Linked DNA regions of Homo sapiens. The protein of the gene in region 1 purifies or fractionates together with the protein of each later gene. This does not show direct contact. Each region holds a gene or a part of one and is shown in the gene's direction. Other genes may lie near its edges.

Evidence for each region.
Region 2: the proteins of DEPTOR (region 1) and ARF4 purify together in Homo sapiens (affinity purification with mass spectrometry, with the first as the bait; one large-scale study listed by BioGRID). This does not show direct contact.
Region 3: the proteins of DEPTOR (region 1) and AKAP11 purify together in Homo sapiens (affinity purification with mass spectrometry, with the first as the bait; one large-scale study listed by BioGRID). This does not show direct contact.
Region 4: the proteins of DEPTOR (region 1) and MYO1C purify together in Homo sapiens (affinity purification with mass spectrometry, with the first as the bait; one large-scale study listed by BioGRID). This does not show direct contact.
Region 5: the proteins of DEPTOR (region 1) and KIF2A purify together in Homo sapiens (affinity purification with mass spectrometry, with the first as the bait; one large-scale study listed by BioGRID). This does not show direct contact.
Region 6: the proteins of DEPTOR (region 1) and ERGIC1 purify together in Homo sapiens (affinity purification with mass spectrometry, with the first as the bait; one large-scale study listed by BioGRID). This does not show direct contact.
Region 7: the proteins of DEPTOR (region 1) and OBI1 purify together in Homo sapiens (affinity purification with mass spectrometry, with the first as the bait; one large-scale study listed by BioGRID). This does not show direct contact.

The regions. Positions count from the first base shown.
Region 1 is NC_000008.11:119,925,314-119,929,760, forward strand, and holds part of DEPTOR (DEP domain-containing mTOR-interacting protein), read left to right. Parts: intron 1-3,086; coding exon 3,087-3,265; intron 3,266-4,447. UniProt on the Homo sapiens protein: Negative regulator of the mTORC1 and mTORC2 complexes: inhibits the protein kinase activity of MTOR, thereby inactivating both complexes. DEPTOR inhibits mTORC1 and mTORC2 to induce autophagy.
Region 2 is NC_000003.12:57,580,025-57,584,471, reverse strand, and holds part of ARF4 (ADP-ribosylation factor 4), read left to right. Parts: intron 1-7; coding exon 8-88; intron 89-464; coding exon 465-574; intron 575-4,447.
Region 3 is NC_000013.11:42,306,374-42,310,820, forward strand, and holds part of AKAP11 (A-kinase anchor protein 11), read left to right. Parts: intron 1-2,080; coding exon 2,081-2,236; intron 2,237-4,447. UniProt on the Homo sapiens protein: Binds to type II regulatory subunits of protein kinase A and anchors/targets them.
Region 4 is NC_000017.11:1,474,814-1,479,260, reverse strand, and holds part of MYO1C (unconventional myosin-Ic), read left to right. Parts: intron 1-525; coding exon 526-645; intron 646-768; coding exon 769-851; intron 852-1,068; coding exon 1,069-1,174; intron 1,175-1,289; coding exon 1,290-1,370; intron 1,371-1,664; coding exon 1,665-1,756; intron 1,757-4,228; coding exon 4,229-4,323; intron 4,324-4,402; coding exon 4,403-4,447.
Region 5 is NC_000005.10:62,361,044-62,365,490, forward strand, and holds part of KIF2A (kinesin-like protein KIF2A), read left to right. Parts: intron 1-198; coding exon 199-289; intron 290-422; coding exon 423-486; intron 487-1,406; coding exon 1,407-1,498; intron 1,499-2,134; coding exon 2,135-2,277; intron 2,278-2,651; coding exon 2,652-2,856; intron 2,857-4,199; coding exon 4,200-4,310; intron 4,311-4,447. UniProt on the Homo sapiens protein: Plus end-directed microtubule-dependent motor required for normal brain development. May regulate microtubule dynamics during axonal growth. Required for normal progression through mitosis. Required for normal congress of chromosomes at the metaphase plate.
Region 6 is NC_000005.10:172,927,304-172,931,750, forward strand, and holds part of ERGIC1 (endoplasmic reticulum-Golgi intermediate compartment protein 1), read left to right. Parts: intron 1-4,447. UniProt on the Homo sapiens protein: Possible role in transport between endoplasmic reticulum and Golgi.
Region 7 is NC_000013.11:78,614,156-78,618,602, reverse strand, and holds the end of OBI1 (ORC ubiquitin ligase 1), read left to right. Parts: intron 1-1,277; exon of another isoform or gene 1,278-1,480; coding exon 1,481-3,023; 3' UTR 3,024-4,314; downstream 4,315-4,447. UniProt on the Homo sapiens protein: E3 ubiquitin ligase essential for DNA replication origin activation during S phase.

The DNA.
Region 1 (4,447 bases):
TGGGAGGTGGAGACTGCAGTGAGCCGAGATTGCACCACTGCACTCCAGCCTGGGCAACAGAGTGAGACTCTGCCTCAAAAACAAACAAACGAAAATAATAAAAACAACAACAACGAGAACAACAACAAAAAAAACCCATCAGATCTTGAGATTTATTCATTACCACGCGAACAGTATGGGGAAAACTGCCCCATGATTCAATTATCTCCACCTGGCCCTGCCCTTGACACATGGGGATTATTACAATTCAAGGTGAAATTTGGGTGGGGACACAGTCAAACCATATCAGCCCCAGTGTCTATTGTTGCCTGTTTACTTTTTGTTTTTTTGACACAGAGTTTTGCTCTGTTGCCCAGGCTGGAGTGCAGTTGTGCAATCTCAGCTCACTGCAACCTCTGCCTCCCAGGTTCAAGCAATTCTCCTGCCTCAGCCTCCTTAGTAGCTGGGATTACAGGCATGCACCACCGTGCCTGGCTAATTTTTGTATTTGCAGTAGAGACGGGGTTTCACCATGTTGGCCAGGCTGGTCTCGAGCTCCCGACCTCAAGTGATCCACCTGCCTTGGCCTCCCAAAGTGCTGGGATTACAGGCGTGAGCCACCATGCCCGGCCTGTTGTTTCCTTCTTGATGTCTATGTGTTCACAATGTTTAGCTCCCTTTTAGAAGAGAGAACATGTGGTATTGGTTTTCTGTTCCAGCATTAATTTGATTAGGATGCCAATTAAAAACATTTATGTAGTTAGGGTTTCTTTTTCTTTGTCTGGCTACTTCTGTTTGCTGTTTTTTTAAAAAATTATTTTCCTTAATAGAAGAAAGGGAGATTCTGTGCTCCGATTTCACTCCACCAGCTTTACCAATTTATAATCTTTACAGTTCCCATTTCCTACCTGGTCCCTGGCAAATGAAGCCTAGTCTGGCTCCAAGCACATGGGTTGAAGTATCTTCTGGAATACTCAGATAAACATGATGATTCAGGTGCTCTAAAAAAATCACACAACTAGCTTTCCCTAGAAGAGGAAGCCCTAAGGACTCAAAGTGTCTTCTGGCATCAGTGTAGTTTCCTTTCTTTTTTAGCATAAAACATTAATCCTAATGTACTAACCTTCAAGGTTAATAAAATATATCCCCCATAAGGTTGTCAGAAAATGCAGAGTGCCCTCTAAAATTTGAATTATAGATACAGTATAATAAATTGTTTTTTTAAAGTATAAGTAGGTCCCATGCAATATTTGGGTCAAGCTTTTACTACACAATGGTTTGCTGTTTATCTGAAATTCAAATTTAACTGGGTTTCCTGTCTGGTTTTTCCTTACTAAACCTGGCAGCCCTACTCTATCACCACCATCTTATGAGAATGTTTTCTGGGTCTACTGGATACCTCTCCTTTAGTATTTTCCTGATATCACTGATATCCTCATCTCTGTTACTAGTGGATTCATTGCTATGTCCTTTCCTTAGCCAATCCTATAGTATGACTTGACTCTTAAGTTTTAGATAATAAATATTTGCAGATGGTAGAACATTGTACAGTAAATAAGCATCATTAACATTCATTCCCAATTATTTAGCACTCAGCCAAAGAGCAGTAATAAAGCACATAAGATAGCCTTTGAGTGACCAAAATAGATGTCATAAATTCCATGCCCAAAATGCTCATTTTCTTTCTTCGTAGATGTTCATATCAGGCTTTTGCTCAAAATATTTTAAATCCTAAATACTGACTACTTAGCAGACCATGGCAGAAGAGAAACAGCAGATTAGGGGAACTGCTTGAGTTTAGGAACAAGGACAACATATGCATATCACAGCAGGACAGGGAAAGGAGATAGGAGAATGAGAAACAGACCCTATGAAGTTCTGGAACCACTGGGTGCAGAGTACAGAGCTCTGGCCGTTTACGTGGTCTCTGAAGGCACCACTGTGGCAACATTCCGTGCCATGGAGCCACAAGCTAGCATTCAGCTCGAGGGTGTATTGGGACAATATTGGTATTAGTAACAGATACCTGAATAAACTCACTAAAGCACAGGGAATGTATCGATTCATGTAATTTAAACCCAGGTTAGGTGGCTTCATGAACTGTTGAATTCAGGTGCTCAAATAGAGTTGTTTGTAATCTCTCTGTCTCTCTCTTTTGTCTCTATCCCTTTATCTCTATCTATCTGGTCCACTTTGCTCTGTGTTGTATTTCTTTCTAGGCAGATTCTTCCTTTATGATGGCAAGATTGGCTAGTAGTAGCTCAAGACACATATATACATATATATATACATATATATTATATATATATAAATATATATATTATATATATTTTAAGACGGAGTTTCACTCTCGTTGCCTAGGCTGGAGTGCAATGGCACGATCTCAGCTCACTGCAACCTCCACCTCCCAGGTTCAAGCGATTCTCCTGCCTCAGCCTCTTGAGTAGCTGGGATTACAGGCACCTGCTACCACACCTGGCTAATTTTTGTATTTTTAGTAGAGATGGGTTTTCACTGTTGGCCAGTGTGGTCTCAAACTCCTGACCTCAAGTGATCCTCCTGCCTCAGCATCCCAAAGTGCTGGGATTACAGATATGAGCCACCACACCCTGATGTATGTCTGTAGTGCCTAGAAGTACCTAACAGGCAGGTAGTAGACATTCATTAATATTTTTTATATGAATGAATGACTACAAGTAGGGTGGGCCCTGAACAATTTGTGATAAAGAGGGTGCACTTTGTTTCAGTGCATTTCTAGGGTTTTTGTTTGCTGGTTGAAACAATAACCCCACTGGAGAGAGAAAAAGCAGGGAGTGAGGCAGAGTAGGGGATGGAGAGCTTTTCTCACTCTCAGGAGTGGCAGGAGGGTTCTGGGTTGGCTGTGATTGTTTCACCCTCATATTTACCTCTGTCATCTAGATCAGAGGCTGGAGTCACTTTCTGGAGCCTTTGAACTCTGACAGTATGGAAATCACCAAGCGAGCTAAAGATATTCAATGACACCTTCATGCCTTTAGAACTTCTGTTATGTTATTACTGTCTGGGATTGGTTTAATAATTTGTGCTGTCATCAGAATTTCCAAAGTAATTGCTAATTTTTCTTTCAGGCTCAGGCTGCACGAAGAAAAGGTTATTAAAGATAGACGTCATCATCTCAAGACCTACCCAAACTGTTTTGTCGCAAAAGAACTGATTGACTGGCTGATTGAACACAAAGAGGCTTCTGACAGAGAGACGGCAATTAAACTCATGCAGAAATTAGCAGACCGGGGCATTATTCACCATGGTGAGTGCGGTGGCGAGTCAAGGTGACTTGAGAGAAATGGAAGGACTAGATCTTTTCATGAACATACCCACTTAAGAAAGAAAACATTTTGCTTTATTTTATCTCCAGTGTACCTCTCCCTGATTGCATTTTCTTCCTGCCTCTAAGAGGCATTTGGGTTCTTTCTTTTTTTTTTTTTTTTTTTGTATTTTTAGTAGAGACCGGGTTTCACCCTGTTGGTCAGGCTGGTCTCGAACTCCTGACTTTGGGTGATCTGCCCGCCTCAGCCCCCCAAAGTGCTGGGATTACAGGCGTGAGCCACTGTGTCCAGCTGGCATTTGGGTTATTTCTATGTACTGCTTTATACCTGTCTGTATATACATCTTTAAGGAATGCATCATATTGTTTTAAAAGTTTTCTATCATTATAGAAGTGCATATTTATGCTTTTGCAACTTGATCAACACACTGTGAGCTTCATCCACATTGATAGTATATGTCTTATTTGTTATTTTTGCTGTTGTATAATACATATGTATAATTATGCCACTATACATTTTTCAGTGGGCATTTACATGGTTTCCAAGTTTTTGCTGTTACTCTCAGTGGGTTCAATGAAGATTCACCAACATGTCTTCTTGAAATCTCTCATCCTGGCCTCGACCTTTGCACATGCCATCGTTCTCTTGGAATACCCTTTCGCCTCATTTTTTGCCCAATTTCGATTCATTCTTCAGGTCTCCACTTACATGAAAACTCTTCAGGGAAGCTTTCTTTTTCAAAAGCTGTGTCACTGTGTTCCTGGGGCACTGGGTACTCTTCCTTTGGGCTCCCATTGCACTCTCTCCTTACCTCTGTAGCCTTATCACACCATATTTCAATTACAGTTGACATTTCTCCTTACCTCACTAGATTTCACATTCTTTGAGGCTGATGCATGCCCCAATATGCTTTAGAAGAATTTGTGGATTGCATGATGAATTGAATTGTGTGAACTTCCTAAATATGATGATGATGATGATGATGATGATGACTATGGTGATGGTGATGGTGATAATAATAGCTAAAAATACTGAGGACTTACTCTGTACCAAGTACTATGTAACTATTTTACAAGTATTAGCTCATATGGTACATATTTGCATGCATGAAGAATGTGATAGTGAAATAATTCTTAATTAGCATCATACTTCGCTTGAGTAAT
Region 2 (4,447 bases), on another chromosome or scaffold:
CTTCTAGTTGGATTGGATGCTGCTGGCAAGACAACCATTCTGTATAAACTGAAGTTAGGGGAGATAGTCACCACCATTCCTACCATTGGTAAGAAAGTTTACAGATGACTTTATATCATGATATGTTGTAAAGTGAAATATATACAGTCTAGTTTTGAGATTGTCTTTTTGTTAAGCATGTTGATTATCTTAGAAGTACTTTTAAAACAGGCCGGGTGTGGTGGCTCATGCCTGTAATCCCAGCACTTTGGGAGGCCGAGGCGGGTGGATTGCTTGAGCCCAGGAGTTCAAGACCAGCCTGCATAACATAATGAGGCCTTGTCTCTGTTGATGTTTAGGCTTAAATATATTTTTTAAAAATAAAAAGAAGTACTTTAAAAACACTATTCTAAGAAAATTCCACAATAAAAGGTTTTATTTTCTTAATGACGCTGCACAGCGGTCATTTTTGTTTTTCTTTGTAGGTTTTAATGTGGAAACAGTAGAATATAAGAACATTTGTTTCACAGTATGGGATGTTGGTGGTCAAGATAGAATTAGGCCTCTCTGGAAGCATTACTTCCAGAATACCCAGGTAAGGGATACTGTATGTTTTTATAACTTTTCTTTGTGGGTTTCATGCTCTAAAGTTTTTATTAGTATCTAGTATTTACTTGGATATTGGTGTTTACTATGAGTTGGCATTTGTCTTATCACCACTTCCACATTCTTCAGTGGACTCTCACTTAGGCCTTGAAGGCTAACTTATATAGGGTGGAAGAGTTGTAAAGCAATTGCGGTAAGTGTTTGGAAGATGGGGTGGGTGCTGGTGTAGTTCACAAGAATGAATTAGGTCTCTTATCCGTAGTTCTTTGCTTTCCATCTTAGTTTAGAAAGTAAGGTCTGTATAAACTGTCATTGTAGTTTCTGATGAATGTAAGACAATTGATAGTCCTTTGTTTAGCCCAGTTACTTGTTTACTTTATTAAATACAGTAAAGTCAGTTCGCTGCATTGATTTGTAAGATATTTTTATATTGCCACATAGTATGTATATATAATACTGGCATGGAAGAGACTTTAGTGATCCTGTAGAACAGGAGTTCTCAAATTTGGGGGTGGCACGTAAGAATCACATGGGGACCTTTGAAAATCCCAAGACCTGGATCATCCCCTAGATGACTTGAATCAGAATATCAGGGGATATAATCCAGGTACAGTAGTGTTTCTTAAACTTTAATATGCATATCAATCACCTGGGTATTTGTTAAAAATACACATTGAGTCCATAGGTCCTAGCTAAGGCCTGAGATTCTGTATTTCTAGCAAGTTCTCGGGTTGTGCTGATACTACTGGTCTGGTATCTTACAGCACAGCACTATTGACATTTTGGGCTGGGTTATTCTTTGTTGTTGGGTATGGGGAGGGCTCTCTATGCATTGTAGGTTGTTTAGTGGCATCCTTGTCCTCTACCCACTAGATGGCAATAGCAGCTGCCCTCAAGTAGCAGCCAAAAATCTCTCCACACCTGCAAAATATCCCCTGGGGGCAAAATTGCTCCCTGCTGAGAACCACTGTTCTAATCTAACTCTCTTACATATGAGGAAACTGAAACTTGGAATGACTTACCCAAGATGGGAGAGTTTGTTCTCACTCTACCTTTGTTTAACCTGGTCCCACCTCGATTGTGTTTTCTACCACCCAAGGAATTTCTTGTCAGTTTTTTTTTATTACTTAATAATTTTTTTTAAGTGTGATATCACTGCCACTTTATATTTTTAAGACTTGCAATGTCATCTTGTTATCAGCCTCTTAAAACATTGCATACAAGTGGGGTTTATTGCCATCAGGTGGCAGTGAATACCCTAGGTGAGTGGCTGGGACAACCAGGTTTACATAGTATGTCATATTAAATAAGTGGTATACTTTTTTATTTAAAAACGAGAATGTTTAGGCCAGGCACGGTGGCTCATGCCTGTGATCCCAGCACTTTGGGAGGCTGAGGCGGGCGGATCACGAGGTCAGGAGTTCAAGACCAGCCTGACCAACACAGTGAAACCCCGTCTTTACTAAAAATACAAAAATTAGCCGGGCGTGGTGGCGCGCACCTGTGATCCCAGCTACTCAGGAGGCTGAGGCAGGAGAATCACTTGAACCCGGGAGGTGGAGGTTGTGATGAGCCGAGATCACACCATTGCACTCCAGCATGGGTGACAAAGCGAGACTCTGTCTCAAAAAAAAAAAAATAGTAGAATGTTTATGGTCATCAATATAGCTGTGACTAGAAAAGATACTTGATACAGAGGCACATGCTTTAAAAAGCTTCCTTATGGAAAATGTTAAATACAAGGTGAACATTCCTTATCCGAAATTCTTGGGACCAGAAACCACTGTTTCTGATCTCAGAATTTTGGGGGTTTTGGAATATTTGCATTGTACCCAGTTGAGCATTCTAAATCCAGAAATCCAAAATCCGATATACTCCAGGGAGTTTTTTCTTTGTTATGTTGGTGCTCGGGAAGTTTTGGATTTGGATTTTTGGATTAAGGAAACTCAATCTGTACACCTACAAATAGAATAGCATAATAAACTCACATGTATGTATTATGCAGCTTCAGTTACTAGGATATAAGCAGTGCTGTGTTGTTTCATACTCATCTCTAATGTGCTCTACCCTCTAGACAGTTTGTTTATTTTTTTTGAGATGGAGTTCTCGTCCTGTCACCCAGGCTATGGCGCAATCTTGGCTCACTGCAACCTCTGCCTCCTGGGTTCAAGCGATTCTCCTGCCTCAGCCTCCCAAGTAGCTGGGACTTCAGGCATGCGCCACCACACCTGGCTAATTTTGTATTTTTAGTAGAGACGGGGTTTCACCATGTTAGCCAGGCTGGTCTCGATCTCCTGACCTCATGTGATCCACCTGCCTGGGCTTCCCAAAGTGCTGGGATTACAGGCATGAGCTACTGCGCTTGGCCAATATATTTTGAAAGAGTTAGATATGAAGTAAAACCTTGCTAATCCTTAAGCCTAATAATTCTTGACCAAGGGTAACCCTGGGTTTATCCCTAGATTTGTTTAGAATGCTTTGTAATTTACTTTGCATTCTTAATTTGAAATTAGACCCAATTCTGGCCTCTTTGGACCATCTGAGAATTAAAAGTCTAAGTACTGCTTCCTAGGGAGTTCATGCTAGCTGGGGAAAGCTTTATGTGTTACCTGATAGAATCAAAGCTAAGCTCTTAGCTTGCATTCCCAGCATTACTGATCAGTTCTCCTAGCTATAAAATTTAAAAGAAACTATAGCTTTAACCATGTTTCTAACTTATACTAACAAACCATGGCACAGTGTGTAGTAAATTCCTCTTATAATTCCAACTAATTTGCCATTGTAAATAAGTAAATATTTGGCTTTTCAAATAATTTCATAGCAGCTGGGCTTATCTGTAGAATCCTAGCTTTTCTTCACTCTTGATTCTAGGCTGTTCCAGGAAGAAAATAATTAGGGATTAATACCTAAAATAATTCTCCTTCTCAATAATGTCACTTTGGGACTGATAGCATTATTTGCATTTTAAAACAAAGGCTGGGTGCAGTGGCTTATGCCTGTACTCTCAGCACTTTGGGAGGCTGAGGTGGGAGGATCGCTTGAGCTCAGGAGTTTGAGGCCAGCCTGGGGAACATAGTGAGACCCTGTCTTTACATTTAAAAAAAAAAAAAAAGAATAAAAATGGGAAGTTAGCAGTCAAAATAAAATTAGGTCCCTTTTAGGGGCATTACCTCTTGTAAAGGGTAGGTTTCAGGACCGGGTGCTATGGCTTATGCCTGAAACACCAACACTTTGGGAGGCCATGATACGAGGATCACTTGAGGCCAGTCCAGGCAACAGAGTGAAACCCTGTCTCTACAAAAAAAAATTAAAAAAAAATTACCTGGGCATGGTGGCATACTCCTGTAGTCCCAGCTACTTGAGAGGCTGAGGTGGGAGGATCACCTGAGCACAGGAGTTGGAGGCTGAAGTGAGCTACAGTTGCGCCTCTGTACTCCAGCCTGGGGGACAAAAGGAGACCTTGCCTCTTTTTTGAAAAAAAGAAGAAACAAAAAAATGGAAGGTTTGGTTCTAAAAAGGAGTAGCTTTTGAAATATGGAAAGGAGGAGACATATTTGCTAAATAAATGCCCATGATAAGCCAAGAACAATGATCTTTTATATCTCTGTGATTGCATTTAATCTTTAACAAGCTTATGAAGTTAGTATTTTTATTTTATTTAGACGAGGCATAGTCAAGGATTAGATAATATATATAACAAGTAGTATAAGATTTGAATTTGAGTCTGTCTTCCCACCACACTATATTGGCTCCCAAAGCATCAAACATTATTTTTTGTTTTTGAGATGGGGTCTCACTCTGTTACCCAGGCTAGAGTGCAGTGGCATGATCATGGCTCACTGTAGCTTCAGTCAACCTCCTG
Region 3 (4,447 bases), on another chromosome or scaffold:
GTCCTCTAAAGTTTTTAAGACATCACTCTCAGGGGCTAGCAAATGCCTTTGTTATTGATTTTCTCAGTAATTTCCACTTTTCCTTCTTAGAGTTGGGTGAGTAGATAGCCCCTAAAGTTCTTCCTGTAAGCCAGTGCTGTCCAATTTCAGCTTTTTATTAAGGCTGGAGTAATTATTTTCCTGCTTCTCTTCTTAATAATTGTGCTAGGGTTCTGTAAATACTGACTAAGGAAAGCTGACTCTAGTGTGTAGAGTTTACGTTTAACATTTTTTATTTCTAAAGTTAAATTTGTCTTTCAAACTTGAAAGGAGATTCATTCAGATGGATTATTCTTTAAGGTATTATTTCACCTGATGTCCCTTTTTGTTTGATTCATGAACATGACCATAAATATTTCACAAACTGTAATGAACAGAGAGGTGGCATGTGAATGCAATTGGGAAATTATGTGATAGTACATTTTTATTCATTTTTGTTTGTTGTTGTTTGTTTGTAGAGATGAGATCTCACTATGTTGCTCAGGCTGATCTTGAATTCCTGAGCTCAAGCAATCCTCCTGCCCTAGCCTCCCAAAGTGCTGAGATTGCAAGCATGAGCCACCGTGCCTGGCTGATAGTGCATTTTTAGCCAACAAAACGATTATATTCTAAGCTATCATTCCGAGCCAAAATAACCTCACAGTCATTATAAACTCTTCTCTGGACCTCATCCTTTGGGTCATTTCAGCCAAAAACCATGAGAATGTGGCACATATTAGGAAAAGTATTCAAAAAAACAAAGTAGTAATCTATCAATGGTTCAGAACTATAATGTGCCTATGCTTGGAATGCTCAGTATCATTCTGTATCTTACAAAATTAGAATAGCTGAAAAAATGGGGGGCAATTCAGGGGCTATTCTCAGGATAGCACTAGGGATACGGAAGTAAGTAAAACAGGCAAAAATCTGCATTCTCTTGGAGCTTATGTTATAGTGGAATAAGACAATAGGTAAGTAAAATATATAGTATGTCACATAGTGATAAGTGCTTTGGGGGAAAAATAAAGCAAGGTAGGGAGTTAGGGAGTTAGAGAGTGCTGGTGGTGACAGTGGCGGTGGCCATTAGGGCTGGTTTACAGTTTTGGATAGGTAGCAGGGGAAACAATACTGGCAAAGTGATACTTGAGCCAAAAACCAAAAGTGAAATGAGAATAAGTCATGTGGGAGTCACCGAGAACAGATTTCCAGGCCTAGGGGTGGGACTGTGCATGTTTGGGAAACAACAGAGAGGCTTGTATTGCTGAAGTGGGAGGAGTGGGCCAGGGAGAACATAGGAGGAGTGGGCCAGGGAGAACAGTAGGAGTTCAGATGGATGTTATAAGAGGGGACAGGCAGTATGTTTTAAGGATTTGGGCTCTTCGGCTTGGTGGGAAGCCATTGGAAGGTTTTGATCCGAAGACTGACATTTTTTCTTTTTATGGAAACATCACTTTGAACTACTTTGTTGAACATAAAATGTAGTGGGACAATTAAAATAGTTGAGCAGTGAATGGACTTTCTTGTGATGATGGAATAAAAGTATAAATGCCTCTTATTGAGAAAAATGAAAGGGGTTATGATCTATGTTCAAAATCTTGAAGAGATTTGGTTAGTTTGAATACAGGCTTGGTTGACAATACTAGAATTTCTTGAACGACTTTTTTGTTCTTAAAGCCAGAAAGAGACTCCTTTAACATAAATAAAAGTACTGTTTTACAAAGCAGATGATAACTTAGGAACTTGTACTGCCCCATGGTATCTCAGTTGAAAAATGAACTGCTTTAAGTAGAATTTAGAGAAATAATGCCCTAGGGATAGATCCATTGTAGATTAACAAAGTAAGTTATGGCTGTTGGTGGGTACCTCAGTTAACTTTGAAATTAATACGCTATCCTACAGTCTGTTTGTTGGCAGACTCAAATAAAGGATTACATGAGCCACTGGTCTGATTCCGAATACCATTTCTTGTTTTTATCATCTTTGTCATCAAATTGATAGTCTTGTAAGTTCAGAATCTGGGATGCTTTCAATTTGATTTTTTTTCTTTTTTTCTTCTTTTTAGTTCAAAAGAAATAGAAGACTTTCAGTCAACCGAGTCTGTCAGTAGCCAGCAGATGAACCTCAGTATTGGTGATGACAGCACTGGTAGCTGGTCCAATTTAAGTTTTGAAGATGAACACCAAGATGAAAGCAGCAGTTTTCATCATCTAAGTGAAAGGTAACTACACTTTTGCATATAATTGTGTAGTTTAGGTCCTCAGATCTTAGAAGTGAGCTATAAATTTACATTATTATTTAAAAATTCTAAATTTGAAAATATGCTATTACTTTCAAAATGTATTTTATTATTCACAATGTATTTCTAATTGTTTTTAACACTTATTTAATACAGTAAGTAGCCCAGCTAATTTTATTGGGGTGTGCCAATAGTTGATTTGAAAAATATTGCATACATTTAATTTTATGCCTTTTAAGCTTCTCCCAAACTTTTTATGAACTTCTGAGGAAAAATTTTTTTTTTCACTTTAAAAAGGGTACTTTTTTTTCTTTAAAGAACAAGAAAAAGGACAGGTATCTGTAAAAGGCATCAAAGTAGCCCTGTACTTTTCCTGACATTAGTTAAAATAGTATCTTTTTGGTGGGGCGAGGGTCCCTGCTTGTCCTGCTGTTAGGAACAAAATGACCTGGAAGACTTATGCTTGAATGATTGAAAATACGTAAGTCAAAGCCATTATAAAAATGTGATTTTGTATAGCACAAGGCACTTACCTCATATATAACTTTTCTTAGTTAACTTTGTTCATAACAGTGGTGTTTGAAATATTTTATTAATTATGAGACAGTTGTTTCTTATAGTCTTAACCTCTACCTAAAGGCATTTCTGACTAACCTATAAAATTCTATAAACTCTTTATCCACATTAAGTGATAACTGGAAATAATAGATACCATTTGTAGCAGAGTCTTGAGGGAGGAAAGGGTTCTTAGCATATTGCTGGTTTCAGGCATGTGTGGAAAGGACCTGTGGACCATCAGTTGAACTTAGCCCCTGGAAATGGCAAACTAGGTGTGGGAGGGAAGGCAACTCTTGGAAAAGGGAATGAGGTAGCATAAGGAAAGGAAATGGCTTTTCACCTGATAGAACACTTCATCTCGAAGAGTTTTGTTCGATGCTTGGATTAACCTGGAAATATTAATATTTTTGTAAAGTATATTTTGTCATAGTTTATTATGGTGCTATATAAACCACCAATATTTCTTAAAATCTAGGTCCAAAAAGACAGTGTTTAAAACTGGTAGAAGCAAGTGGGGGCAATGTCACAAATCATGATTTGGCCCTTTTCTATAACTTTATCTAGAAAAGGATACTAACATTTAGTTTCTTCTCTCATTTTGAGAAACACAGGCTTCTATGATTTCAGTGGGGTTGACAGTGTTGCCTAGGAAATCCTGGCGTTAAAATGGGAGATTGAGGTGTGGGTAGAGGCTTTAAGCATTAAGAGGACTTGTAGTCAGTTGAACAACTCTGTGCTGAATATTATCTAATTTGATGAGAAAAAGGAGTCGTCTTACCGGTTTCTGTCCTTGGTTCTGTCCTCCTTAGCATTATTTATTAATGATGTGGAATACTCATTTGTGGATGATTCAACACAGGCTGAAAAAAGAATCTCATTAACAGAACAAAGGTTAAAAAGACCAAATCAAGCTGAGGTTAAAATAATTATGTTTAACATGGATAAATGCATTTAGGCTCAGAAAATTAATGATTAATATTTGAACTTAAGTGGGGAGCAAACCTGGCTTGATGGCATTTTGTCAGAAAAAGACCTGTGTTTCCATTGACCAAAGTTGTAATGTGACTTAATGTAATGCTGCGTGGCATTAAGGTTCTGGCACAGAGAAAAAGCGGGGCTCATCCAGGATTGGTGGTGTGCTCGTTGCATATACAGTGTCCAGGGTCTCACCTCCAGAGATGAAGATTTATGAAGTCAGTGAAGGGTCCTGAGAATCTGCATGCTTGATAAGCATCACAGATGATTTCAGTGCAGGTGATTCAGAGACCTCACTTGAAAATATATTGATTTACAAGATATGTTGCATCTGTTGATGACAATTGATATCTATACTGTTCTTTTCTGCTACAGAGATCAAGGTAGGAGATAAAGACTTCGGCGATTTGGGCTGGGCGCGGTGATTCACGCCTGTAATCCCAGAACTCTGGGAAGCCAATGGGGGTGGGGGTGGATCACTTGAGGTCAGGAGTTCAAGACCAGCCTGGGCAACATGGTGAAACCCCGTCTCTACCAAAAATACAAAAATTAGCCAGGCGTGGTGGCAGGCACCTGTAATCCCAGCTACTTGGGAGGCTAAGGCAGGAGAATTGCTTGAACCTGGGAGGCAGAGATTGCAGTGAGCTGAGATTGTGCCAC
Region 4 (4,447 bases), on another chromosome or scaffold:
AGCACTTGGGGAGGCTGAGGTGGGCAGGTCACCTGAGGTCAGGAGTTCGAGACCATCTTGGCCAACATGGTGAAACCCCATCTACTAAGAATACAAAAATTAGCCGGGCATGGTGGCGGGCGCCTGTAATCCCAGCTACTCGGGAGGCTGAGGCAGGAGAATCGCTTGAACCCGGGAGGTGGAGGTTGCAGTGAGCCGAGATCACGGCAACAGAGCTAGACTCTGTCTCAAAAAAAAGAAGCAGCACAGTGAGCTGGCCAGGGTCACATAGGAAGAGAGTAACAGTCCGGCTAGAACCAGACTCCCACCTCGGGAAGGAGGCCTCCTGTCCCTCTACCACCTTCCCTCTGGGGTGGCCACCTGTCCTCCCTGAGGTCCCACTACCAGCACCCCTCCCCATACTGCAGGCTTGCTGGAGCTGGGAGTGCAGAGTGGTGGCGGCTTCCTGGTCTGCCTGAGCCTGGGAGCAGGTGGGATGCACAGGCTCTGTGGCATTCATCTCCTTGTCTCACGCTGCGTCCACAGCTCCTGAGCCCGCTGAACCTGGAGCAGGCCGCGTACGCACGAGACGCCCTCGCCAAGGCTGTGTACAGCCGCACTTTTACCTGGCTCGTCGGGAAGATCAACAGGTCGCTGGCCTCCAAGGTGAGGGCTCGGTCCACACTGCTCCCAAGGCAGAAGGGAGGGCCGTCGGCGAGGCGGGGGGTGCTGCAGGGTGGGGCTGGCACGCGCAGGGGGCCCACGCCTTCGGTTGAATGACTGCCCTAGGACGTGGAGAGCCCCAGCTGGCGGAGCACCACGGTTCTCGGGCTCCTGGATATTTATGGCTTTGAAGTGTTTCAGCATAACAGGTCGGTGCCATCTTTCCCCCGTCTCTCCTCCCGGTCTCCTGTCCTGCTCCCTCTCTTCTGTCCTCCAGCCTCTCATTCCTGCCCTGTGACTCCCCAGCCAGCCGGGGACTGTCTCTGTGTTTCTCACCTCCTGTGCTCAGGGGCGTCGTCCAGCTTTTCCCCTCTCCTGGTCCTGTGTCCCCACTGAGCCACTGTGGGCTCTTCTCCTTCCTTACAGCTTTGAGCAGTTCTGCATCAATTACTGCAACGAGAAGCTGCAGCAGCTCTTCATCGAGCTCACGCTCAAGTCGGAGCAGGAGGAGTACGAGGCAGAGGGCATCGCGGTGTGTGCTAGCCTGGGGGCACTCTCCGTGGGCCACGGGGAGCCTGGGTATCGGGGCCCCTGGGAGAGGGTGCCAGGACCCCACGGTGATCCCTTCCTTCCCTTCTGCCCCTCAGTGGGAGCCCGTCCAGTATTTCAACAACAAAATCATCTGTGATCTGGTGGAGGAGAAGTTTAAGGGCATCATCTCGATTTTGGTGAGTCCTCTGCGCCTCCAAGGCCTGGTGCTGGAGGCTGGGTGGGAGGATGTCCCCCTTCTCCGTTCTCTCCAGGCTGGTCCACGGAGGGCCAGAGTTTGGGGCTGAGTAGAGACAGGGCAGAGCTGTGAATGGAGGATGGAGGGAGGTGCCGCCCCAGTTGGAAGCTCTCTGTGGAGACTCCCTGTGATCTGCCCCTCCCCTGTGTCTGTGCCTCCCAGCACGGTGACCCCAATCCTCTGTGCGCTCTGACCTGTCCCCCATACGTCCTTCCCCCTGTGCCACACCCCCCAGGATGAGGAGTGTCTGCGCCCCGGGGAGGCCACAGACCTGACCTTCCTGGAGAAGCTGGAGGATACTGTCAAGCACCATCCACACTTCCTGACGTGAGTGGGGCTGCGGGGCTGCTGGGGGCAAGGGCTCACTTGCAGCAGAGCCTGCGGAGTGCAGGAGTCCCTCCGCCATCACAAAACACCAGCCACAAGGAGGTGACCAGGGACGGTGCTGAGTTAAGGACCCCTCACATGTGTCCAGAAACTAAGAAGCTTAGCCAGGCATGCTGACACGCCTGGAGTCCCATCTATGCAGAAGGCTGGGGCAAGAGCATCACTTGAGCCCTGGAGTTTTGAGGTTGCAGTGAGCTAGGATCAACCCACTGCACTCCAGCCTGGGTGACAAGAGCGAGACTCCGTCTCAAAAAAAAAAAAAAAGGGAAAAAAATAAATAATGAATTTTTTAAAAAAGAGAAAGAAGGCCAGGTGCAGTGGCTCACGCCTGTAATCCTAGCACTTTGGGAGGCTGAGGCGGGTGGATCACCTTAGGTTAGGAGTTCAAAACGAGCCTGGGCAACATGGTGAAACCCAGTCTCTACTAAAAATGCAAAAATTCGCTGGGTGTGGTGGCAGGTGCCTATAATCCCAGCTACTCGGGAGGCTGAGGCGGGAGAATCGCTCGAACCCGGGAGGTGCAGGTTGCAGTGAGCCGAGATCGCACCACTGCCCTCCAGCCTGAGCGACAGAGTGAGACTTCAACCCCAAAAAAAAAAACAAAAAACAAGACACTAGTAGCCTGGCTTCCTCCTTCTTCTTGTTTGAGAATGAAACTTGCTAAGATTTTTCATCTTCCTTGTTTGGAAATTGATTTTTATTGAAGGAATCCTCTGAAGTGGGGAGAGGTAGAAACAGGAACAAGCGCCTCTGTCCAGCGCGGTCTGATGCATGCTGTGCATGTCGTCGCTTCACCTGCAGCTGCTCCTTGAGGGGTTCTTGGTGTTTTCTCACTGAGACTCCAAGAGGCGAAGTCATTTCCCCAAAATTAGCTCTCATCTGGGTTGCCGAGCTGGGGTCAGTGCCAGGGCTGTTGAATGCCAAAGCCATGAGTATTTTTTGCATAATAATATATTGAAAATTTGTTTCTGGATGGGCGTGGTGGCTCACGCCTGTCATCCCGACACTGTGGGAGGCCTAGGTGGGCAGAGATCACCTGAGGTCAGGAATTCAAGACCAGCCTGGCCAACATGGTGAAACCCTATCTCTATTAAAACTACAAAAATTAGTCAGGCGTGGTAGTGGGCACCTATAATTCCAGCTACTTGGGAGCTAGGAGAATTGCTTGAACCTGGGGGGCGGAGCTTGCAGTGAGCTGAGATGGTGCCACTGCACTCCAGCCTGGATGACAGAGTGAGACTCCGTCTCAAAAAAAAAAAAAAGACTTGTTTCTAGGAGTCTCTCTGAATCTATTCGGGTTTAGGGGCTGCCTGATTCATTAAATAATAAATACTAAAAACTTGTTCCTGATTATAAAAATAATATTGCTTATTACAGCAAAGTTGGAATGTGCGCAAAAGCCACCTGTGATCCCGTCGCCCAAAGGCCATGGCTGTTAACTGTGTGAGGCATTTCCCTCCTGCCTTTTTCTATGCATTTTTTTTCGTAGTCGAGAACTTGTGTATAAGGCTCAGGGTAAATATCCTGCACATTTTCCCGTATCATCAAACAACATTTTCCTCAGAACACTTCCTGGAGCGGTTCTGACCCACAGATACTCCCCTCTCTCACCCAGCCCTTCGGGGCCCCTGGCCAGCCTCCCAGGTTTCTGCTGGAATCACAAGGCTGCCACAAACATCTCCGTGCCTTCAATCTTTGTCCGTGTCTCTGGTTAGCTGCTTGAAATAGTTCTTAAAAGCAAATGGGTGAAAGGGTATAAACACGCCTAAGACTTAAGTGCTCTCTTGGGGCAGCAGATTCCATTCTGAAAAGTAGTGCGCAGCTCACCACCCCTTCTGAGCAGAGCCCGCAGCGGCCGAAGCAACGAGAGTTTCCCTCCCTGCAGCGTACCCTGGCCGTCAGGAGGCCCAGGTCCCGGTCCTGGCACTGTGTGGCCCTGGCCAAGGCCATCTACCTCTCTGAGCCTCCATGGTCCGCTCTGATCAGGGAGGCCACTGGCCCTGCCTGGCCTGCCTCAGTGACCCAGCCCTGGGGGTGCACCTGCTCTTTTTTTTTTGGAGTGTAGTGGCACCATCTCGGCTCACTGCAACCTCTGCCTCCCAGGTTCAAGCGATTCTCCTTTGTCAGCCTCCTGAGTAGCTGGGACTACAGGCGCCCACCACCACGCCTGGCTAATTTTTGTATTTTTGGTAGAGATGGGGTTTCACCATATTGACCAAGCTGGTCTCGAAGTACTGACTTTGTGATCTACCCACCTCGGCCTCCCCAACTGCTGGGATTACAGCCGTGAGCCACTGTGCCCGGCCTGGGGTGCACCTGGGCAGCTGGTTCCTGCTCCTGAGGCCCTTTCAGCAGGCAGAGGGCTTGGCTCAGGCCGGCAGCCATCTGCAGCTTCCTCCCTGTCACCCCCAGGCACAAGCTGGCTGACCAGCGGACCAGGAAATCTCTGGGCCGAGGGGAATTCCGCCTTCTGCACTATGCGGGGGAGGTGACCTACAGCGTGACCGGTGAGGATCCTGGGGCTGTGTCCCCACAGGGGCCTGCGGGGAGGCTCTGTCTCACCTCACGTCGGTTCTCCCCTCCCAGGGTTTCTGGACAAAAACAATGACCTTCTCTTCCGGAACCTTAAGG
Region 5 (4,447 bases), on another chromosome or scaffold:
TTAAGTAATTTTAGCATATGATATTTAAAATTCTTAAATCAATTCTTCGATATTGTTATTTAAAATTTTTAACAAAGATTTGTTTAGAATCTTGCTATTAAGTTTTATTTATTAATAAAATACTTTGTATTACTCAGCATTACTATTATTCATCAAAATATTGGTGACACATTCTGACTGATGCATTTTATTTTTAAGGTTTACTGCTAGACCACTAGTGGAAACTATATTTGAAAGGGGAATGGCTACATGCTTTGCTTATGGGCAGACTGGAAGTGGAAAAACTCATGTAAGTAATTTATTAAAGTTACATTCTGGTACGAAGCTACAGTTTCTTTTCCTTATAGCTTAATTCTGTGAACTAAATTCTTAAGAGTTATTCCTGAGTAATGTCTGTTCTTTATTTTCTTTTTAAAATATAGACTATGGGTGGTGACTTTTCAGGAAAGAACCAAGATTGTTCTAAAGGAATTTATGCATTAGCAGGTAACTGTCCTTTTTCCATAAAATTTGGAATATTCTTCTGTGGTATTATTCAGGTAACTTTGAAATAAGGCTTTAAAATATTGTTCAGCAACTATAATGCTATATTAACTGTCTATTATGTCAATTATAGGTTATTAGATTGCTTGAAAAGAACTATAAGATTATATATTCACAATAATTTTTTTTTTTTTTAAGAAGACAAGAACTGTAGGCTGGGTGTGGTGGTTCATGCCTGTAATCCCTGCACTTTGGGAGGCCAAGGTGGGTGGATCACTTGAGGTCAGGAGTTCGAGACCAGCCTGGCCAACATGGTGAAACTCCATCTCTACTAAAAATACAAAAAAAAACTTAGCCAGGCGTGGTGGCGGGCGCCTGTAATCCCAGCTACTCAGGAGGCTGAGGCAGAATTGTTTGATCATTTGAACCCAGGAAGCAGAGGTTGCAGTGAGCCAAGATCATGCCACTACACTTCAGCCTGGGCAACAGACCAAGACCCCATCTCAAAAAAAAAAAAAAGAACTGTAAGATTGATTTTGAGGGGGCAGAAATCTTGATTATATTTGTCAGTGCATTCTAGCACATTGTTGGAGATGAGTCTCAATTGTTGAATTTCTGAACTGTAAAAAGCTACTAGCTATGGTATAAGAATAACCTCATTATGACCACCTATAATTTTATGCTATTTATAAATATAAATATTAATATATATAAATAAAAGTAGCACCCTTTTATGGCATATGAAAGAGAATAGCTTCTATTAATACTATTTTTTGTAAAATTAATATTCACTTTCTCATTTTTATTATTGATACTGTTATCCTAGGTAAAGAGTAACTGATTCCTCTAGAAATAGAAAATTTGAGTTGCTTTTTAAAAATATTTGTTGGATCTCAATTTTCTGTATATGAAATTTTTGACAGCTCGAGATGTCTTTTTAATGCTAAAGAAGCCAAACTATAAGAAGCTAGAACTTCAAGTATATGCAACCTTCTTTGAAATTTATAGTGGAAAGGTAAGTGGGAACTTTTTTAATTTTAATTTTTTAAAATATATATATAACATAACATTTGCCATTTTAACCATTTTTAAGTTCAGTGGCATTAAATATATTCACATTGTTGTGCAGCGTTTACCACCATAATTTATGTGTATTTAGAACTTTTATATTAGAATTTATGTTATGAGATTTTTTTAAAAAGTCCTTTGAAACTTTTCAACTTCAGTGTTGAGAATTCTTATTCCAATTATTATTTTAATCTCTGAAATAATTCTTAAACTCTGGGTGACTCATTTTTATAGAACTGATATTTTAATTGCCACAGGATCTCGCTGTGTCACCCATGCTGGAGTGCAGTGGCATGATCACAGCTAACTGTAGCTTCAATCTCCTGAGCTCAAGTGAGCTTCCCGCCTCAGCTTTCCTAGTAGCTGCGACTATAGGCATGCACCACCATGCCCAGCTAATTTGTTTTATTTTTAGCAGAGACAAGGTCTCACTATGTTGCCCAGGCTGGTTTTGAACTCCTGAGCTCAAGCCATCCTCCTGCCTCAGCCTCCCAAAATGCTGGGATTACAGGCGTGAGCCATTGCACCTAGCCTGTTTTTTACTTTAAAGCTAGTTTTCTAATTTGAATATGGTTTTTCATAGGTGTTTGACTTGCTAAACAGGAAAACAAAATTAAGAGTTCTAGAAGATGGAAAACAGCAGGTTCAAGTGGTGGGATTACAGGAACGGGAGGTCAAATGTGTTGAAGATGTACTGAAACTCATTGACATAGGCAACAGTTGCAGGTAAATCTCATTTTGATTAAGAAAGGAAACATCAGTTTTAGAAACTTTGGGTACAGTATAACAAAATGAGGATGTTATCTATCAATACATCTTGGAAGTAAAAATCATTGTTCATAAAAACTTGTGTTACATGTAAATGTGAGTGACAATTATTATATTGATACTACATTACAAATATATTAGAAATATGCCGGATTAAATTGTATGAATCTGGTTCTATTTAAGTGTTATAACTCAGTGTCTCATCTGTATTTAAAAGATGAAAACTAGCTAAATCGATGTTTTTGCTGCTGTTGTTTTTAATGAAAATAATGTGGTTTGAACATGTAAATTGAAGTTTTTAATGTATCAAGATGTCCTTAATCACATTGTAGAACATCCGGTCAAACATCTGCAAATGCACATTCATCTCGGAGCCATGCAGTGTTTCAGATTATTCTTAGAAGGAAAGGAAAACTACATGGCAAATTTTCTCTCATTGATTTGGCTGGAAATGAAAGAGGAGCTGATACTTCCAGTGCGGACAGGCAAACTAGGCTTGAAGGTGCTGAAATTAATAAAAGCCTTTTAGCACTCAAGGTAAATAAAATGTATTTTATCATGAAAGGTCTTTTACTTTTGACTTTAATTTTCTTTACTCAGTTGCAAAATAGTAGTACTTGTTTTACCTAATAAAAAGAGGTTTTCAAAATTCAGATGCTTGTAATGTATAGTGTGATTTTATTATACCCAGATTTTTTCCTTGCACACATTCTTTATTCTTTTTAGATGGGATAAAGGATATGTGAGTTAGTAGGTCAGTTCTGGGGCTACATAGGTAAACTCCAGAGGTTTTTTTTTTTTTTGAGACTGTGTCTTGCTCTTTCGCCCAGGCTGGAGTGCAGTGACACAATCTCGGCTCACCGCAACCTCCACCTCCTGGGTTCAAGCCATTCTCCTGCCTCAGCCTCTCCAGGAGCTGGGATTACAGGCACGCACCACCACACCCAGCTAATTTTTGTATTTTTAGTAGATATGGGGTTTCACCATGTTGGCTAGGCTGGTCTTGAACTTCTGACCTCGTGATCTACCCACCTCAGCCTTCCAAAGTGCTGGGATTACAGGCGTGAGCCACCGCGCCCGGCCCAGAGGGTCTTAATTAGTCATATTTTCTAGGAGGAGGGCAACGAACCACTGAATTGAGCTAAGAAACAGTTTCTCAGAAAAATGTGGAATGGCTTTCAAAATGTTAGGCCAGGTTATTACATCTTTTCCTTGAGTAGAACACCAAAGGTTGGAAAGACTAAAATAAGGCATTCTGTGTTTTTTTCTTTTGGAGTGCCATGTTAAGAAATTAACTTTTTACAGTTATCCTACTGCCTGTCACTTTCAAACACTAGTCATAGTTTCCAGAAATATCTGTTGGAAGAATAAAGTAGGTTTTTTTGCTGTCATTTTTTATTTTCTTGAATTAGCATTTATGGGAACATCTACACTATGCTTTAAAACTGTTGGCCAGGCGCAGTGGCTCACGTCTGTAATCCCAGCACTTTGGGAGGCCGAGGCGGGTGGATCCCCTGAGGTCAGGAGTTCGATACCAGCCTGGTCAGCATGGTGAAACCCCATCTCTACTAAAAATAAAAAACAGCCAGTCGTGGTAGCAGGCGCCTGTTATCCCAGCTACTTGGGAGGCTGGGGTAGGAGAATCGCCTGAAGCCTGGAGACAAAGGTTGTAGTGAGCCAAGATTGCGCCACCACACCCCAGCCTGGGTGACAGAGCGAGACTTTGTCTCAAAAAAAAAATAAAACTGTTAGTAGAATTTTCAAAACTGATCAGACCCTTAAATGTTCAAGTTGTAGTAAGAGACCTTTTAAAATATGTTAATTAAGATTATCCTTTATAAGAAAGACTAATCTGTGAGACTTGTTTTCTTAATTTTCAGGAGTGCATCAGAGCCTTAGGTAGAAATAAACCTCATACTCCTTTCCGTGCAAGTAAACTCACTCAGGTGTTAAGAGATTCTTTCATAGGTGAAAACTCTCGTACCTGCATGGTAAGTTTATGTTTATTTTTTGTTTGTTTTATTTTAATCCTAAAGGAATAACTACACAATATTTATGGAAAATGTATTTGTTAGTGACAATTATTTGAATCCTTCTATTTTGAGTGATATGGTGATATTTAAGATGT
Region 6 (4,447 bases), on another chromosome or scaffold:
CTTATTATTTCCTGAAATGCGTTTGCTCTCCCATTGTCAGGGATCCAAGGCAAAGAAAACATCCCTCTGTGACCTGCCCCCCCGACAAATCGAACCTCATTTTTCTGTGTCCCTGTGAGTCCTTGTCCATAAGCAGAACTCACTTTTCTTTTTTTCCAAGGCATGGATTGCAGTTTACCGTCTGCTTTTTGTACTTGACCTTATTACATAGCCACGATTTTCTTACTTTCCAGTTGTAATGGGAGCACAGTTGTCCATCTTGCAGCTCTGCTGTGCTTTTTTTTTTTTTTTTTTGAGACGGAGTCTTACTGTGTCACCCAGGCTGGAGTGCAGTGGCACAGTCTCGGCTCACTGCAACCTCAGCCTCCCGGGTTCAAGCAATTCTCCTGTCTCAGTCTCCCGAGCAGCTGGGATTACAGGTGCCTGCCACAATGCCCAGCTAATTTTCTGTATTTTTAGTTGAGACAGGGTTTCACCACGTTGGCCAGGCTGGTCTTGAACTCCTGACCTCAGGTGATCTGTCCCCACTCTGCTCTGCTTTTCTAAGTCATTGTCTTCTCACCGAAAGTGTCTGTCGTTTCCTGTGTTTCACTGTGGCAATAATGCCTCTGATATGTACAGGGTTGGCGCTCTGTTACCCGATTGCTTTCCAGCTGTGTCTGGTTCCCATTCATGCTGCCTCCAGCAACGGATAAGTATACGGCAGCACCTCCTTATTTGAGTGCAAATGTCTGGTTGTAATAGAGGTAGATGATTCTTGGTGTGGTGCCGTGGTCATTGTCGTTTTGTGTCATGGTAACATGTCATCCGACGTCGGCCGTCCACAAATGTCTGCAGCTACGATGGACCCTCAGCTGCTGGACAGGAAAGAGGATCAAGCTAAGAAGGCCCAGAGTGTGCAAGCAGAGAGAGGGTGTGGACAGAAAACCTTGCCTTCTCCAGGGCTAGTGGCGAAAGCTATCTCAGGCTGGCTCAAGTGGAGAGAAAAAAGCATGAGATCAAGCAATGGACAGCTGGGGAAGGGCTGGCTTTTATTTCCTCAGCTCCCAAGCTCAGTCCCTGGCACTGGGCCGTTGCCTTTGTAGGTCCCTCTGTGCCCAGGTCTTGCTATGGGGGTTGTTTCTTGGCATTAAGGTCTCAGTTCAAACGCCACCGTCTCCAAGAAGCCCTCACTGGTCACCCTATCTAAAGTAACCCTCACTCCTAAGGACAAACCTGTTTTTTCTTCCTAGCATAGACCACTCTCTGAAATCACCTTGTTCTCCCAGTCATCTGCTGCCCTTGGCTGTTGCGCCAGCTATAACATGGCACTCTGCCTTGCCCACTGCTTTGTCCCCAGGACCCAGCCCTGTACCCAGGGTATAGTAGGTATATGATCGATGATAAGAGGCCTGGAGGCCACTATGGAAGAGCTCCTGCCAGATGGTGGTGGAGTGCGGTCATGAGGACCTCGGCCTCCAGTGTCCCCCTCCACTCTTTCCCAGCCCTGTGGTCTTGGGAAAGTCATTTAACTCTGCTAAGCCTCAGTTTCTGCATGTGTAAAGTGGGAAGAATCCTCTCCACCTTAAGCCTTGCTATGAGGATTAATGAGATGCGTGTACAGAGTTTAGTACACGGCCTGCCACATTGTGAGTGCTCAATAAATGTTGGCCGTTCTCTTCATTATCGTCAGCAGCTAACTTCAGGAACGAGATCCCCTAGGGCAGAATCTAAGGAGAAACTTTCCTATATCAAATTGTATCTTGTATTGTGGTACTGAATTGTTTAACTGGTCCTGAATGATATAACTGGAATGAAACCAGCTTGTCATGTATATGTATACACATAATATGGGCTGTCATATATATATATGTGTGTGTGTGTGTGTGTATATAAGTATACACACACATACATATATATGGGCTGCTGGTTTTAAGAATGCAGATTCTGGGCCCCACTCCAGTGGCGGGATAGGGATGAAACAAGATTGGCCATACGCTGGTAATTGCTGAAGTTGGGAAATGGGTACGTGGGAGTCCATTATACAATTCCCTATGTTTTAGGTTTGAATTTTTCTGTAAGAAGATTTTGCGGGTAGGGGAGGAGGAGTGAGCTTGAAGGGAATGTGGGCTGGCCTAGACCAGGTTGGAGCCAGCAGTCTCTAGGAATGGTCAGCTCACAAGGAATCCACATGGGTGTAATTAACTGCAGTGTCTCCAGTGGGCATTTGGCAAATTGTATCAAAGGCCTTAAAAATGGTCATTGCCTTTGAGTCATCAATTGTACTCATAGGAGAGTAAGCTAAGGAAATAATTAAGAGAGTGTACAAAAATCTAGGAAAATAATGTTCATTAGGTCATTGTTTATAAAATTGAAAATGAGGAACCACGTCAGTGTCCAGCCATAGGGGGTTGACTGAGCATGGTAACTGCCCAAGATGAGCGAGGTGTGTCAGGACCTTACTGGCAGTCAGGCAGCAAAGATTTATTGAGCACCTACTATATGCTGGGCATTGGGCTAGGTTCTGGGGATAGAGAGATGAATAAAACAAACTCTGCAGAGCTTATGTTCTGTGTCTTAGACCTGAAAAGTTGATCATGATGTTCAGTTCTTAGAAAAAGATGGCTGGGCGCGGTGGCTAACGCCTGTAATCCCAGCACTTTGGGAGGCCAAGTCGGGTGGATCACGAGGTCAGGAGTTCAAGACCAGCCTGGCCAAGATGGTGAAACCCCCATCTCTACTAAAAATACAAAAAATTAGCCAGGCGTGGTGGCAGGCGCCTGTAGTCCCAGCTACTCAGGAGGCTGAGGAAGGAGAATCACTTGAACCCAGAGGGTGGAGGTTGCAGTGAGCCGAGATCGTGCCACTGCACTCCAGCCTGGGTGACAGAGTGAAACTCCGTTTCAAAAAAAAAAAAAAAGATACGGTATGGTCCTATTTTAGGAAAATACAAATATATGTATAAACATGTCTGGCAGTTTATATGTGAGACTGTGAACCATAGTTTTCTGAGGATGGTGAATTTATGGTGATTTTTTGTTTTGTCCTTGGTGATCACCTGTGTTTTGTACAATTTTTTTTTTTTTGAGATGGAGTCTCGCTCTGTTGCCCAGGCTGGAGTGCAGTGGCAGCTCACTGCAACCTCCACCTCCCGGGTTCAAGCGATTCTCCTGCCTCAGCCTCCCTAGTAGCCGGGACTACAGGTGTGTGCCACCAGGCTTGGCTAATTTTTGTATTTTTAGTAGAGATGGGGTTTCACCATGTTGGCCAGGTTGGTCTTGAACTCCTCACCTCAAGTGATCCTCCCACCTCGGCCTCCCTAAGTGCTGGGATTACAGGCGTGAGCCACCACATCCGGCCTTGTACAAATTTTAACAAGAAATATTACAGGGGTGATTTTGATAAGGCATTCACTTTTTCATTCCTTCAAGTTTTTAACCTAGGGCAATGGGCGTTTGGACACCACTATCAAGCGTGGTCTTGGGCTCTTGTTTTAAAAATGCAAATTCTGAGCTCCACCCTTGACCCATTTGGCGGGATGCTCCTGGAAAGAGGTCCAGGTGTCTTTTTATTCCAAATGATTCGACTGCTTCTGACATCTGAGAACCATTACAGGGTTGAACAGAGGGATGTTGGAGTCTTCATGGACTGGGCTCTGCGGCTGCAGGACTTTTCTCGGGTTTTCAGAGGAACCTACTCAAAACAATTCAAGAAGCACTTCCTTTGCTTACTGAGATATGGCTTTGGCAGGAAGGGGCAGGGAGGGAGTGTCAGGGCAGTGAATGCTGTCTGCATTCCCAGCCTTCTTACAGAAGAGGACTGACTCGACTCTGCGACCAGGCTTAGAACCCACAGGCCTAAATTTCTGTGTTATTTTAGCTCTGTAGTCCGTGACCCGAGATTGTGGAAGGCCCATGAGCTTCCTGTAAGCATCCCAGAAGGCCCAGGAGAGTTCATACCTTTCCTGAGTGATATTTGGCAGCTCTGGGCCAGCATTCTATCAGCCCAGCATTGGATTCCAGTTACCTCACGCTTATCAGCAGCTGATTCATCTGTGCTTTCATTCATGCCCCTGTCCAATCATCCTTCCATCCGTTCATTCATTCAGTAAGCATTTGCCACGGTCCACTTGGTACCAGGCCCTGCACGGGGCTCTGGGGACACAGAGTTGAGTAAGGCTCCATCCCTGCCTTCAGCAGCTCCCCCATCCAGGAAGAACTGATCTGCCGTTGATTTCTTTCCCCATTCTCAGTTCATCAGTGCTTCATTGGTGCAGTTTTTCTGGTTGATAGGCTCTTTTCTTTTTAATACTGAAACCTAGTTTGTTTTAAAAGTAAAACTATTCAGACAATGTCAGAGGATGTACAATGAAATGGGATCTTTCTCAAATCCTGCCTTCCTCCCCAGAAGCTAAAGCTGCCCGTGGTTCCTTGGGCATCTTTCCAGATAATTCTCCTATATATTTACA
Region 7 (4,447 bases), on another chromosome or scaffold:
TGAGATTTTATGATTCTATATTTACCTTTGCCTCTGCTTTTTCCTTCAGTGATAAGAGTGCAGGGATTATGTAGGGGTTGAGATGGGGAATGAATTGGGCTAGTGGTTTAGGAGGTGATGGGCATTAAGTGGGAGTTGAAAACATGTTGTGGTTGATTCTAAGAGGGGCAATTGCTATTGGCTTCTGCTTTTTTTGTAGTTTTTTTTTTCAATACTAAATACATGTTCTTAATTGTAATTATTTTTCAAATTAGGGGAAAAAAGGAAGAAAAAGATAAACCCAAAGATAAAAATAATTTTTGAAAGTCACCTTCTCATAGCTTCCTCCAAACAGACAATCCCTTAATTCTTAGAAATGGGCCAATATATAAATCATCAAAAAGATGATTAAGAATAGGCTTTGAAAAGAATTTTGGAGGAGATAAGGTATTTTTCACGGGATTATGTTATTTATTGGCTCATAAGTTTCCTGAAAGATAGAATTTATTTTTGGTGATAAGATTGAATTTAAGGTAGATATTTTATGTCCCTTGGAGCTAGACAGTCTTTTTTATCTTTTGTGTTCCCAGCCCCAAATATACCACCTAACCTATACTAGGTACTCAAAAATTGTTTCCTGAGCTTAACACAGTACTCATTCTTGGTGGAAATAACAGCAAGATAATCCCGGTGTAAAAGGAGTAGACTTTTTGTGAATAAGGGAATTCTTTTTCAGTCACTCTCCAAAATGTTCTCTTTCAGAAAGTGTACAAAAAAATTTTTTTTTTTGCCTAGTATATTGGAATCACAAGCACTGACTTCATATTTCAAAGTTGAAAGAAATGAGATAGATGTCCCACACAGCTGTAAAATGCCAAAAATAAGTAGTGCTGACATAAATTAAAGGCCAGTGCTCTGAAAAGCCACAGAAAAGCTTCAGATCAAGGGTGGCTATAATTGAAAGGGCCCAAATAAGTATTTAAAACCACCCCTCCTGGGACTGCTAAGATTTCTGAATTTCAAATTGGCATTTTATGTTTGACAAGGTGACATTATATAAGAAATGTATTGTAAAACACTGCTGTATGATAGGAAAATGATTGAATGTAAATATTTCAAGATGTAGACCACTGTTCAAATGTTATCATAAATCTTTGCCATTGTTTTAGGGGATAACTCTTCATGCATATATGAGCTGAATTGATACAGCCAGCTCTTCGAGGGGAAATCATCAGCACATTTCTGCCTCTCTGCTACCATAGATCTGATTTAACCACAAAAATATCCTATTAGGTTTTGCTATTATTATCATATGTTTATTATTATGTAAGTGGGGAAACCATTTTTTGAAAATATACATCTGGCATTTGCCCTACTCATTGAGTGGTCTGAAATGTCACTGTTAGGTGAAATTAGAATAGCCTGGGACAGTTTGCACTCTCAAACCTTGAAAAGAAAAAAGCTTGAGTTATAAGATTAACTATCTTTCCATTCTTTGTAGGTTTGGAAGGTTTGCAGTTGCTGCTCTTCAGTCCAAAGTAGAACAGTATGAGCGTGAAACCAATCGCCTCAAGAAAGCCCTGGAACGAAGTGATAAGTATATAGAGGAACTAGAATCTCAAGTTGCACAGCTAAAAAATTCAAGTGAAGAGAAAGAAGCTATGAATTCCATTTGCCAGACAGCACTTTCTGCAGATGGCAAAGGGAGCAAAGGCAGTGAGGAGGATGTGGTGTCAAAGAATCAAGGCGATAGTGCCAGAAAGCAGCCTGGCTCATCCACCTCCAGTTCTTCTCACCTAGCGAAGCCTTCCAGCAGCAGACTGTGTGACACCAGTTCTGCAAGGCAGGAAAGTACCAGCAAAGCAGACCTTAACTGTTCTAAGAACAAAGACCTATATCAAGAACAGGTAGAAGTAATGTTAGATGTGACAGATACAAGTATGGATACTTATTTGGAAAGAGAATGGGGGAATAAACCAAGTGACTGTGTACCCTACAAAGATGAAGAACTTTATGATCTTCCAGCTCCTTGTACTCCTTTGTCCCTTAGTTGCCTTCAGCTCAGTACTCCAGAAAATAGAGAGAGCTCTGTGGTCCAAGCAGGAGGTTCCAAAAAGCACTCAAACCATCTCAGAAAATTGGTGTTTGATGATTTTTGTGATTCTTCAAATGTTTCTAATAAAGATTCTTCAGAAGATGATATAAGTAGAAGTGAAAATGAAAAGAAATCAGAATGTTTTTCTTCCCCAAAGACAGGATTTTGGGACTGTTGTTCCACAAGCTATGCCCAAAACTTAGATTTTGAAAGTTCAGAGGGGAACACGATAGCAAATTCTGTTGGAGAAATATCTTCAAAATTGAGTGAGAAATCAGGCTTATGTTTATCCAAAAGGTTGAATTCTATTCGCTCTTTTGAAATGAACCGGACAAGAACATCCAGTGAAGCATCGATGGATGCTGCTTACCTTGACAAAATCTCTGAGTTGGATTCAATGATGTCAGAGTCAGACAACAGCAAGAGCCCTTGTAATAACGGTTTTAAGTCACTGGATTTGGATGGGTTATCAAAGTCATCTCAAGGCAGTGAATTTCTTGAGGAACCTGATAAGTTGGAAGAAAAAACTGAGCTAAACCTTTCCAAAGGTTCTCTAACTAATGATCAGTTAGAAAATGGAAGTGAATGGAAACCCACTTCTTTTTTTCTCCTCTCTCCATCTGACCAAGAAATGAATGAAGATTTTTCACTCCATTCCAGTTCTTGTCCAGTAACTAATGAAATCAAACCCCCAAGCTGCTTGTTTCAGACAGAGTTTTCCCAGGGCATTTTGTTAAGCAGTTCACATCGACTATTTGAAGATCAAAGATTTGGGTCATCTTTGTTTAAGATGTCCTCAGAGATGCACAGTCTTCATAACCACCTTCAGTCTCCTTGGTCTACTTCCTTTGTGCCTGAAAAGAGGAATAAAAATGTGAATCAATCAACAAAAAGAAAAATCCAGAGCAGCCTTTCCAGTGCCAGCCCATCAAAAGCAACTAAAAGTTGACTCATTAGAAAGGTGTCATTTGTGGTTTTGTCCTGAGAGAAATAGAAAAGTTGTTAAAGTTACCTTTTTTCCTCATAAAAGTTCTATACAAATTGGAATTGATAATCTTTAGTCAAGTATCAAGTCAGGATGGTGGATTAACCTGTACCCAGAATACTTATTGTTCATTTTGAAAAGACTTTGTTCTTTTCATTTTTATTTGGGAGTCTTTGTGACCAGAGAAGTTAGGGAGGAGGTTATTTTTGTGTTTTGGGGTTGGTTGGTTGGTTGGTTTTGTTTTTGGTTTTGTTTTTTTACTGAATTTGATATGTATCTCGGTTGGATATACATTGTTTTTTTAAAAAATGTTATTTAACTGTTAGATACAGTGGCCTGTTGATAAGCCCCACTTGTCTTCAGAACTTGGATTTCTTAAATAAAACTTTTAGTGTTGTCTATACACTGCTCAATAAGACACTTGAGTTTAAGCTTTTCCCAGGGTGGAAATTATTTTACCTGTCCCTTTTTATTTATGTTTAGTGATGGCCTAGTTTTTCTGCAGGGCCATGATGGAGAAATAGCACTCTAGCCTTAGTCCAATATTGATTTACTTTCTTTTTTTAGGTTTTATGTATATGTTTGCATTTTTTAGCATTGTGTTTTGTCCAGTTTTGTGAAAATGTTCTGCTAGTATGAAAGAAAACATTTTCTATATGAAGACATTTGTTTTATGTTAGGTAGCTTACATTTTCTCCTCTGCGTGTGTGTGTATGTGTGTAAAATCAGAAATTTAGCATACTATGGAAAGAAGGCATGGAGCACTTGGGTTTAGAGGAACCTAAAACATCATAGCTTCATTGTTCCAGATGTAACAGGTTTGAAAGAGCTCATCGCCAAGTTCTTGATCCACTTGCATTCCAGGGGAGTTTTCTTTTGAGTAGTATGTTTCTTGTTTGCATGTTCCTGTTCTTTGTGGAAACTATGCATGGTAGCATTTTTGCTTGCTGTGTTTTCCATACTTAAGAAAAAGAGGTTTCAGTTGGCTGATAGAATATCTTTTATGTAGGACAAAACTTTTCTGTGAAGAGTGTTGAGGGGGTGAAGATAGGTAAGAGGTAAGCACAATTTTTAATTTAGGCTCTGAAAAAGTGTATTGTTCTAAACGTATTTGGTATGCCTATATAGGTCTTTAAAAATGGGTATGTATGCTGTTTAATGTGCACTGAACATTTTACATTAATATTGTACTGTTTTACATTAATACTGCATGCTTTTCTATGTGAATTGAATAAAGAATGTCATAAGCACTGTGTTCCTTGATGTCGATGATGATTCTTTGTCTCGTATATTGAATTAGCCTATAAAGACCAGGAAAAACTACTTTTTTTTTTTTTTGAGACGGAGTCTCAATCTTGTCGCCTAGGCTGGAGTGCAGTGGCGCGATC